Homo sapiens: one gene and its partner. The protein of the gene in region 2 interacts with the protein of the main gene of each other region in a pairwise test. Each region holds a gene or a part of one and is shown on either strand. Other genes may lie near its edges.

Region 1 (4,385 bases), on a different chromosome or scaffold from region 2:
TGTATGTATATGTGTGTGTGTATATATACACACATACATACACACGCATACACACATATGCACACATATATACACATACACATGTATGTATACACATATGTATATATGTGTATATATATATGTGTGTGTGTGTATATATATATATATATCTTTTTGAGATGAGAGTCTTGCTCTGTCACCCAGGCTGGAGCGCAGTGGCATGATCTCATTGCAATCTCATGACTCATTGCAACCTCTGCCACCCAGGTTCAAGCGATTCTCATGCCTCAGCCTCCCGAGTAGCTGGGTCTACGGGCACGCACCACCACACCACGCTAATTTTTTCATTTTAAGTAGAGATCAGGTTTCACCAAGTTGGCCAGGCTGGTCTCAAACTCCTGACCCAAGTGATCCACCCATCTCAGGCTCCCAAAGTGCTGGGATTACAGGAGTGAGCCACCGCACCCAGCCATTTTTTTTTTTTTAAACAAAAGATATCTAGACCCCCATTATGACAGTTCTTTTAGATGAATGAACAGACTTTTATACCATCAGAGTCATCTGCATTTTCCTGCATATAGGCATTCAGAAAATAACAAATGAAAACATTAAGATAAACTAATCTTTAACTGACAACTTCATTGTATTAGGGTGAGAAAACCAACACCCATTTGTTAAATAAATGCTAGTTAATAGCCATGTGATCTCTTCCTCCTTTAAACTTCATAGCATTTTGTATTTTTACCTGTGTTGACCATTCATTAGTTAATAAACATTCCACCAAGCTCCTACTGTATGCCGGGGCCTGTTGGGGAATGACTGGGAGGCAATGGATCTAGAGATTTCTCTGGAGGTAGTCTGGCTAAGGAGGGGAAAAGAGATCTAGGATAGGAGATCCTAGGAGCTACAGACTTCCACTGTTGTTTTCAAAAATTGGAAAGTCTGTGCTGGTATCTTCTCTCCTATCAAACTGAATTCCTTTGTAGGAGGGCTTATACCTACATTTACCTAAACACTTAAGAGTTCACAGTATAGAACCTTGAAAACAGCAGTGTTTATTTTTTGTTTAATTGAACTGAAGTTTACCGCCACCACTCCCACTCCCTTCCTTTCTTTTCCCCTCCTTTTACCTCATGTTTCTCCAAATCTCTACAGTCCCTGAGAATGTTTCTTAAACCAGGAATTTGGGATGCAATAACCTTGCAAATCAAATAAAAACAACTCCAACCACCATCAGAAGAGTAATAGAACAAGCTAACACTCCTGAAGGCGGGGCCCACCTCTTTTGTATCTTTGTATCTCTGTTGTCTGGCATAAGGCCTGGCACAGAATGGAAGCTCAATAAATACTGATTAGGTGATTGCCACCTAGGGATCCTCAGAAAGCAAAGGTGAAGTTGGACATCACAGAAGCAGAGATCTGCTCAATCTGTGTGGGACATTATCTATGCCCAAATTTAGCATTTTTTTTTGGACATAGGAACTACCATTTTAACCATTTGTAAATGTGCAGTTAAAAACACACCTAAGGGCATCCACATTGTGTGCCACCATCACCACTGTCCAGCTCCAGAGCTTGTTTGTCTTCCTAAAGTGAAACTAACTTTAAAAAAAAAAAAAAAAAAAAAGACGGAGTCTTACTCTGTCGCCCAGGCTGGAGTGCAGTGGCGCGATCTCGACTCACTGCAAGCTTTGCCTCCCAGGTTCACGCATTCTCCTGCCTCAGCTTCCTGAGTAGCTGGGACTACAGGCACCCGCCACCATGTCCGGCTAGATTTTTTTGTATTTTTAGTAGAGACGGAGTTTCACCATTTTAGCCAGGATGGTCTCGATCTCCTGACCTCGCGACCCACCTGTCTGGGCCTCCCAAAGTGCTAGGATTACAGGCGTGAGCCACCACACCCGACCCTGTGACCTTTATATAACTCTCCCTTCCCCAATCCTGGCAGCACCTTTGTATTTCCTATCTTATGAATTTGAGTGCTGCTCTGGTTTGAATGTTTGTCCCCTTCTCACATTCAGGTTGAAACTTAATTGCCATTGTAACAGTATCAAGAAGTGAGATTTCATTTATTTTTCATTTCTTCATTAAACATCTTTTCTGAGCCTCCAATTATGGGTCCGATGCTGAATATTCATTACTTTCGTTCAACAAAGCTACTAAGCACCTGACATAATAGTACATCCTGGGGACTTGGGGATGACATTCGTTCTGCTTTCATGGGGCTCCAATTATCTGACCCTGCCTTGCATGACAGCTGTCTACCTGTTTCCCCACTAGATTATAAACCCAGGGAAGAATTGGAAGAATTCACCTGTACACCCTCAGTACCCGAGCCCTGTGAGCATCCTAAGTATTTGATGATCACCACTCTTCTGCTTAGAACCCTGCAGTACTCTCCATTTCACTGACAGTAAATAGCCCAAATCCATACAATGACCTATGCAGATCACTAAGGTCTACCTTTCTCGTTTCCTCTGCACTCCGGGGTCTATTTGCTGTTCCTCAAACATACCCTTCAAGGCCTTTACATTCGCCGTTCTCTTTACCCTCAATGCTCTTCCCTAAGACACTCACAGACTACCTTCCTCTCCTCATTCATATTACTATCCAACATAACCTATTTTACTTGTTGTCGGAACCTCCTCCATCCCTTCAATGTAGGCAAGTGTTGTTTGCTTATAGATGCTTAATAAATACTTGCTGAGTTCATAAATCCTCCACTCCGCACCCCCACCCTAGGTTGGCAGAGGCCTCAGACCTTTGCTAGCCTAACTCCCACCTGATGGGTACCTACACTGCCGCTAAGTGATGGCACATCGAATTCAGCCTGAGAGCACCCCGCCTGCGGGTCTCTCCCGGCCCACAGGCTGAGCGTGCGAGTGGAAGCAGGAAGGGAAAGTATCAGGAAGGTGGAGTACCACAGGCCACATGACTGCTAAACGCTGCTTTCTCAACGTCCGCCCCACCCGCGAGGGAGGCGGACGTCCCAGGACAGACCCCGCAGCCCCCAGCCAGCCCCCTTAACCAGCGGACAGCGTACCTGATCCCCTCACCCCCACGCAGCGGCAGCGGCGCGCATCGGATCCCCCCCGCCCCCGGCCTCGCTTCCGCTTCGTAACTCCGCTCCGAATGGCATTCTGGAAATTGTAGTTTTTCACCTGCAGGGTGCTCGTGGGGCCGAGCCGGAGCGGAGGCTGCGGCTTCTACTCCCAGCCCTGGCGGTAGGGAGCTGCGTCCTGCTGTGGTGGTTGCCCACCTTCTCTGAACCCCTGTCTCCCCGTCTGCTGGACAGCTATTACAACCCCAACCCTTTACCAACTTCACAGGGCTCCTACAGGTGCTCTGTTGGTTGTCAAGGGCTGGACATTGCGAAACTGGGGTGTGTGAAGCAAAAAAATTCTAAGGCCCGCACCCGACTGAATGGACCTCCCTCTCTGCCGAAGGAAACCTTAAAAACTAGTTATGGCCATTACAGGAAGCGGGAGTGGAGCGGGGCGGTTGGACATGCACTGATATTATATCCCATCCCTTGCGGAGTTTAGGCCCAACGGGGACTGACACAACAGAATCTTTGTAGAACTAAAATATCAAATTCCAACCTGATATCATATTGTGTCCGGAAATGGTGGATTCTTGGTCTCACTGACTTCAAGAATGAAACCGCGGACCATCGCGGTGTTACAATTCTTAAAGACTGCGTGTCTGGAGTTTCTTCCTTCTGGCGGGTTCATGGTCTCGCTAGCTTCAGGAGTGAAGCTGCAGATCTTCGCAATGAGTGTTAAATCTCTTAAGAGGGCACACCTGGAGTTGTTCCTTCGCTCTCGGTGGGTTCGTGGTCACACGGGCCTCAAGAAAGAGCTGCAAATACAGATCTTCACGGCGAGTGTTATAGCTCACAAAGACAGTAGGGACCCAAAGGGTTAGCAAGCAACAAGATTTATTACAAAGAACAAAGCACCCACAGTCCAGAAAGGCAACCCCAACGGGTTGCCGCTGCTTGCTCGGGCAGCCTGTTTTTATTCTCCTATCTGGCCCCACCCACATCCTGCTGATTGGTCCACTTTACAGAGAGCCGATTGGTCTGTTTTACAGAGAGTTGATTGGTCCGTTTTGACAGGGTGCTGATTGGTGCGTTAACAATCCCTGAGCTAGACACAAAAGTTCTCCAAGTCCCCACTAGATTAGCTAGACACAGAGTGTTGATTGGTATATTTACAAACCCTGAGCTAGACACAGAGTGCTGATTGGTGCATTTACAAACCTTGAGCTAGATACAGAGTGCCGATTGGTGCATTCACAATCCCTTAGCTATACATAAAGATTCTCCAAGTCCCCACCAGATTAGCTAGACACAGAGTGCCGATTGGTGCATCCACAAACCCTGAGCTGGACACAGAGTGCTG
Region 2 (3,818 bases):
TACAAAGAATATTGTAACTGAGCATATTATTTAAGAGTTACTTTTCTCTGTTGGCTTTTTTTTTCCACCTTCTCCAAACGTTTTATAATGATGTTAAATTGATTAGTGTTGTTATGAAACGAAACTGGTTTAATTTTAATTGCCAGGCGTTCCTATACTCACTCCCAGTTTATTTACCAGGTAGCGGACCTCCCGGTGAATGGCTTGAGGATGGTTTTCGCTTGCGTGACTTGAATACAGTCACTATGGGGGACTTGCCTGCTCGGTTGGACTGGTCTATCATGGGCTGCACTATTCTTCTCCGGGCATTAATAAACCTGTAACCAAGAAAGTGAAACAAATCGTTATTCCTTAAAAATAAAAGGGGGGGTTGAGGAAGAGGAAAAGATGAATCGCAGTTGGAGTAAAACTAGATCTTGGCAAAATGGGACTCCTTCAGTTCTCTCCATTGCTCTATGTGCAGCCTCACGTGCTGGAAAACCTGTAACCCCCAGTGACCTTTGAGTACACAGGCTTGGGGTTTCTGAGTTGATTTATGTTTGCCTGTTTTACCACAGTTGGACACTTCCATTTCATCTTTTCATGGGGGAATTAGCAGAGTTTTCAGGAAACAATACTAGCCACCACTCCTTTCATTTGCAAAGAGAGAAAATTGGTGTAAAGAGTTAGATGCTCATAAGGGCATCTGTTACCTCTCCTAATTAGTGACATTTCAATCTTATGTTCTCTGACTTCTTTTGTACAATTTTTATCAAAACCACCCCTACCTCTTGCAAACCTAATTCTATTTTAATGCCCACTATTAAGATAATGAACTGGGATGGCAGCACACCATCAAATGAGAGAATGTCTGGAGTTTATCACCACTAACTCACACTGCTTAGGACTTCAGAGAAATGCATTCCTTGTAGAGATTTCTTGGGGTGGCTTTTTTTGTTGTTGTTGTTTTTTTTTTTTTTGCTCTTTATGTAAAGTCTGAGGTCAAGGCAAGGTCACAGATATACAGTAATTGAACTTATAGTTTTGCTTTCTCCAGCTAGTACTGAAAATTTATAAACATCTTATTAAGGCACTTAAGTTACTTTAAGTGCCTTAATAAGATAGTTTTGTACAATTATTTTTGTAGCCTCTCCAAAAGTGACAAGTCACTGACATGTAAAAAAGTATTAATATACGCTCTCCAGAGTCATACGCATGAGATTCTCTTAAGATCCGTTTGTTCTGCATAATATTAAAAATTACGTATCAAATCCAGAAAATGAAGAGGACATATTAGATTCTGAAATAGTAAATTCCTTTTAGTTCCCAACTCAGATCAAATCTGAGCAGGACATAAAAAATACAATGAAAAGTTTAATAAGGCTCTATTAATGATTAAAGGATCCATAGTCCAGTATGAATTCTAGTTTGTAAATCTGCCCACTTCAGGAAGGAAAATAGTTCCTAAAAACCAAACCATTAAACAGACAGGGACAGGTTTTCAAAACAAAAATGCATACTTCATAACATTTTAAGATTCTCAATATCCTGTATCCTTGTGTTCTTTCATTATCTGAGAAGTAATTGAAACAAATAATGAAACTAGAATCTAACTAAAAGGTATACTGTTTGTGCTAATTCTTGTTGGCAATACATATTATATCAGTTCTTGTATATGAAGTCCCTGAACTGCTAATAAAAATATTTAAAACACAGGTCTACAACAAATTGTGTTGCAAATCAGGTTATCATTATCTTGTATAAACCATGAAAACTGGAATCATGTGAGCAGAAGGTTAGATTAATTCTCCATTCTCATTATAAGCACAGGTGTAGCACAAACACCATGTGAAATAACCAATTAAAATGAAAAAAAATCTGTTTTTTCATTAGCTGCCTTCACTGCATGACCAATTAGAAAATTATTTAATATTAATATTCTGCATATACCAAAAGTAATTTTCATAGTAACTAATGTAGGTAAGAGAGCAAAAACATCTCTTTATCTATGGTACTGTTCATTATCTGCAGACTCTTAGAGGGAAGGAATTCTGTCTATTAACTTTCTTTTTCCAGACTTTTTAAAAACATAATCTTTTATGGATGTGACTTATACTACTTACCTAAAAATAGGAAGAGACATTTTTAACAGATGAGAAGCCTGGGCTCAGAGAAATTAGGTGACTTCTTTGAGGTCACATGTTACCAAAGAGATGTTAATAATTTGCTAAATGACACACAGCTGTCAGTGGTAGCAAGCACCCTCCTCCCTGGTGCTCTGGCACAGTGACTAGAGCACCGCAACTATAGTGCCACTCATCTAGAATATCCAGACTAAATAGATATATAAAAATTAGCTGGTTTCAAGCCAATTACCACTGGCAGCAACCCCAGTGTTTAGTCAAGGAAGAAGCATGACTGTGAACATTTTGTAAATTGAAAATTTTGATGGCTGCACTGTTTGTGTGTATAGGCAAAGATAAGGCTATTCAAAGAGAGAGAGAGAGAGTGAATACAGTGACTTGATTTATCTGTATTCCAAAACTTGTCTCCATCATATTCACATATTGAGACTCCCATAAACTAATTCATAATAATCAACTCAGGTTTGAGTCTATGACTATTAAAGTCGTGAGTTCATTTTTAAAAATTACACCTCAGGTTTCAAAAGGGCTGTAATGGTCACTTCGTTTGGTCACTGACATGAATCCCCTATATGATATCTGTCCCCCAAAAGTACATAGGTAACCTCTGCTGAACTAATACAGCACTCACCACCTTACTTAAGAGGCCACCCCATCTATAAACAAGGCTGTTAGAAGGTTCTGCCTTACTAGATCAAAAATATTTATGTTGGTGCAAAAGTAATTGCGGTCTTGCCATTACTTTCAGTGGCAAAAACAACAATTACAGGGGGAGGGGGAAGGGATAGCATTAGGAGATATACCTAATGTAAATGACGAGTTAATGGGGGCAGCACACCAACATGGCACATGTATACATATGTAACAAACCTGCACGTTGTGCACATGTACCCTAGAACTTAAAGTATAATTAAAAAAAAAAAAAACAATTACTTTTGCACCCAACCTAATAGTTTTATCAGCACAACTCCTTGGGGTACTGTAAGCAATTCTAATTTTACTTCCACAGGATAGCCCTTCAAATAGTTAAACATAGCCATTATGCTTTATAGCCTTCTCCCCTCTAATCCTTAGGTTAAACATTAGTGATTCTTAAAAAGTGCCTGCTAGAATGTGAGTCCTTCTAGGATATTGAGTCCATTCAATACCTGGACCACTCTCTGCTCAGTAGGCTGATCTTTGTCTATGTCCTCCTGAAGCCTTGCAGTGGACAACACCAACGACATTTATTCCAGGCCTGCTCTGATCCCCAGGTAGAAAGCAAATACACACAAAAAATACCACAGCCTCTTAGCCAACTGCCCACAGGTACTAGATGTTATTTGCTTCTTTTTGGTGGCAAGAACTGTTTGTTGTTATTAAGAACACAGATGTCAGCTACCCCTAGAATGTGTAGATATCAAAGGGGGAAACCTTTAATTAAAAAATAAAACATAAACAAAAACACTGAAAACCTGAGAAAAACTAATCACCTTTTCTGAGCTGTTTGACCACATTAGTAGGTCTACCTGCAACTTCTTACTTGTGAAACATTTAATTTAAAAAATTCAATATAATGAAATATCATTAGTACATATAGGATGTAGTAATCTCTCAGAACGTTACTGAATTACAATTACTACACTTATATGAACAACTAATTATTTGGGGTCATGATGGACATCTATGTGAAAACAACAAAGTAAATAGCAAAAT

Evidence for each region.
Region 1: the proteins of MEIS1 (region 2) and TRMT10B interact in a two-hybrid assay, tested with the Homo sapiens proteins (one large-scale study listed by BioGRID and IntAct).

What each region holds. Positions count from the first base shown.
Region 1 is NC_000009.12:37,752,490-37,756,874, reverse strand, and holds the start of TRMT10B (tRNA methyltransferase 10 homolog B), read right to left. Parts: upstream 3,071-4,385; 5' UTR 3,023-3,070; intron 1-3,022. UniProt on the Homo sapiens protein: S-adenosyl-L-methionine-dependent guanine N(1)-methyltransferase that catalyzes the formation of N(1)-methylguanine at position 9 (m1G9) in tRNAs. Probably not able to catalyze formation of N(1)-methyladenine at position 9 (m1A9) in tRNAs.
Region 2 is NC_000002.12:66,563,952-66,567,769, reverse strand, and holds part of MEIS1 (homeobox protein Meis1), read right to left. Parts: intron 318-3,818; coding exon 259-317; intron 1-258. UniProt on the Homo sapiens protein: Acts as a transcriptional regulator of PAX6. Acts as a transcriptional activator of PF4 in complex with PBX1 or PBX2. Required for hematopoiesis, megakaryocyte lineage development and vascular patterning.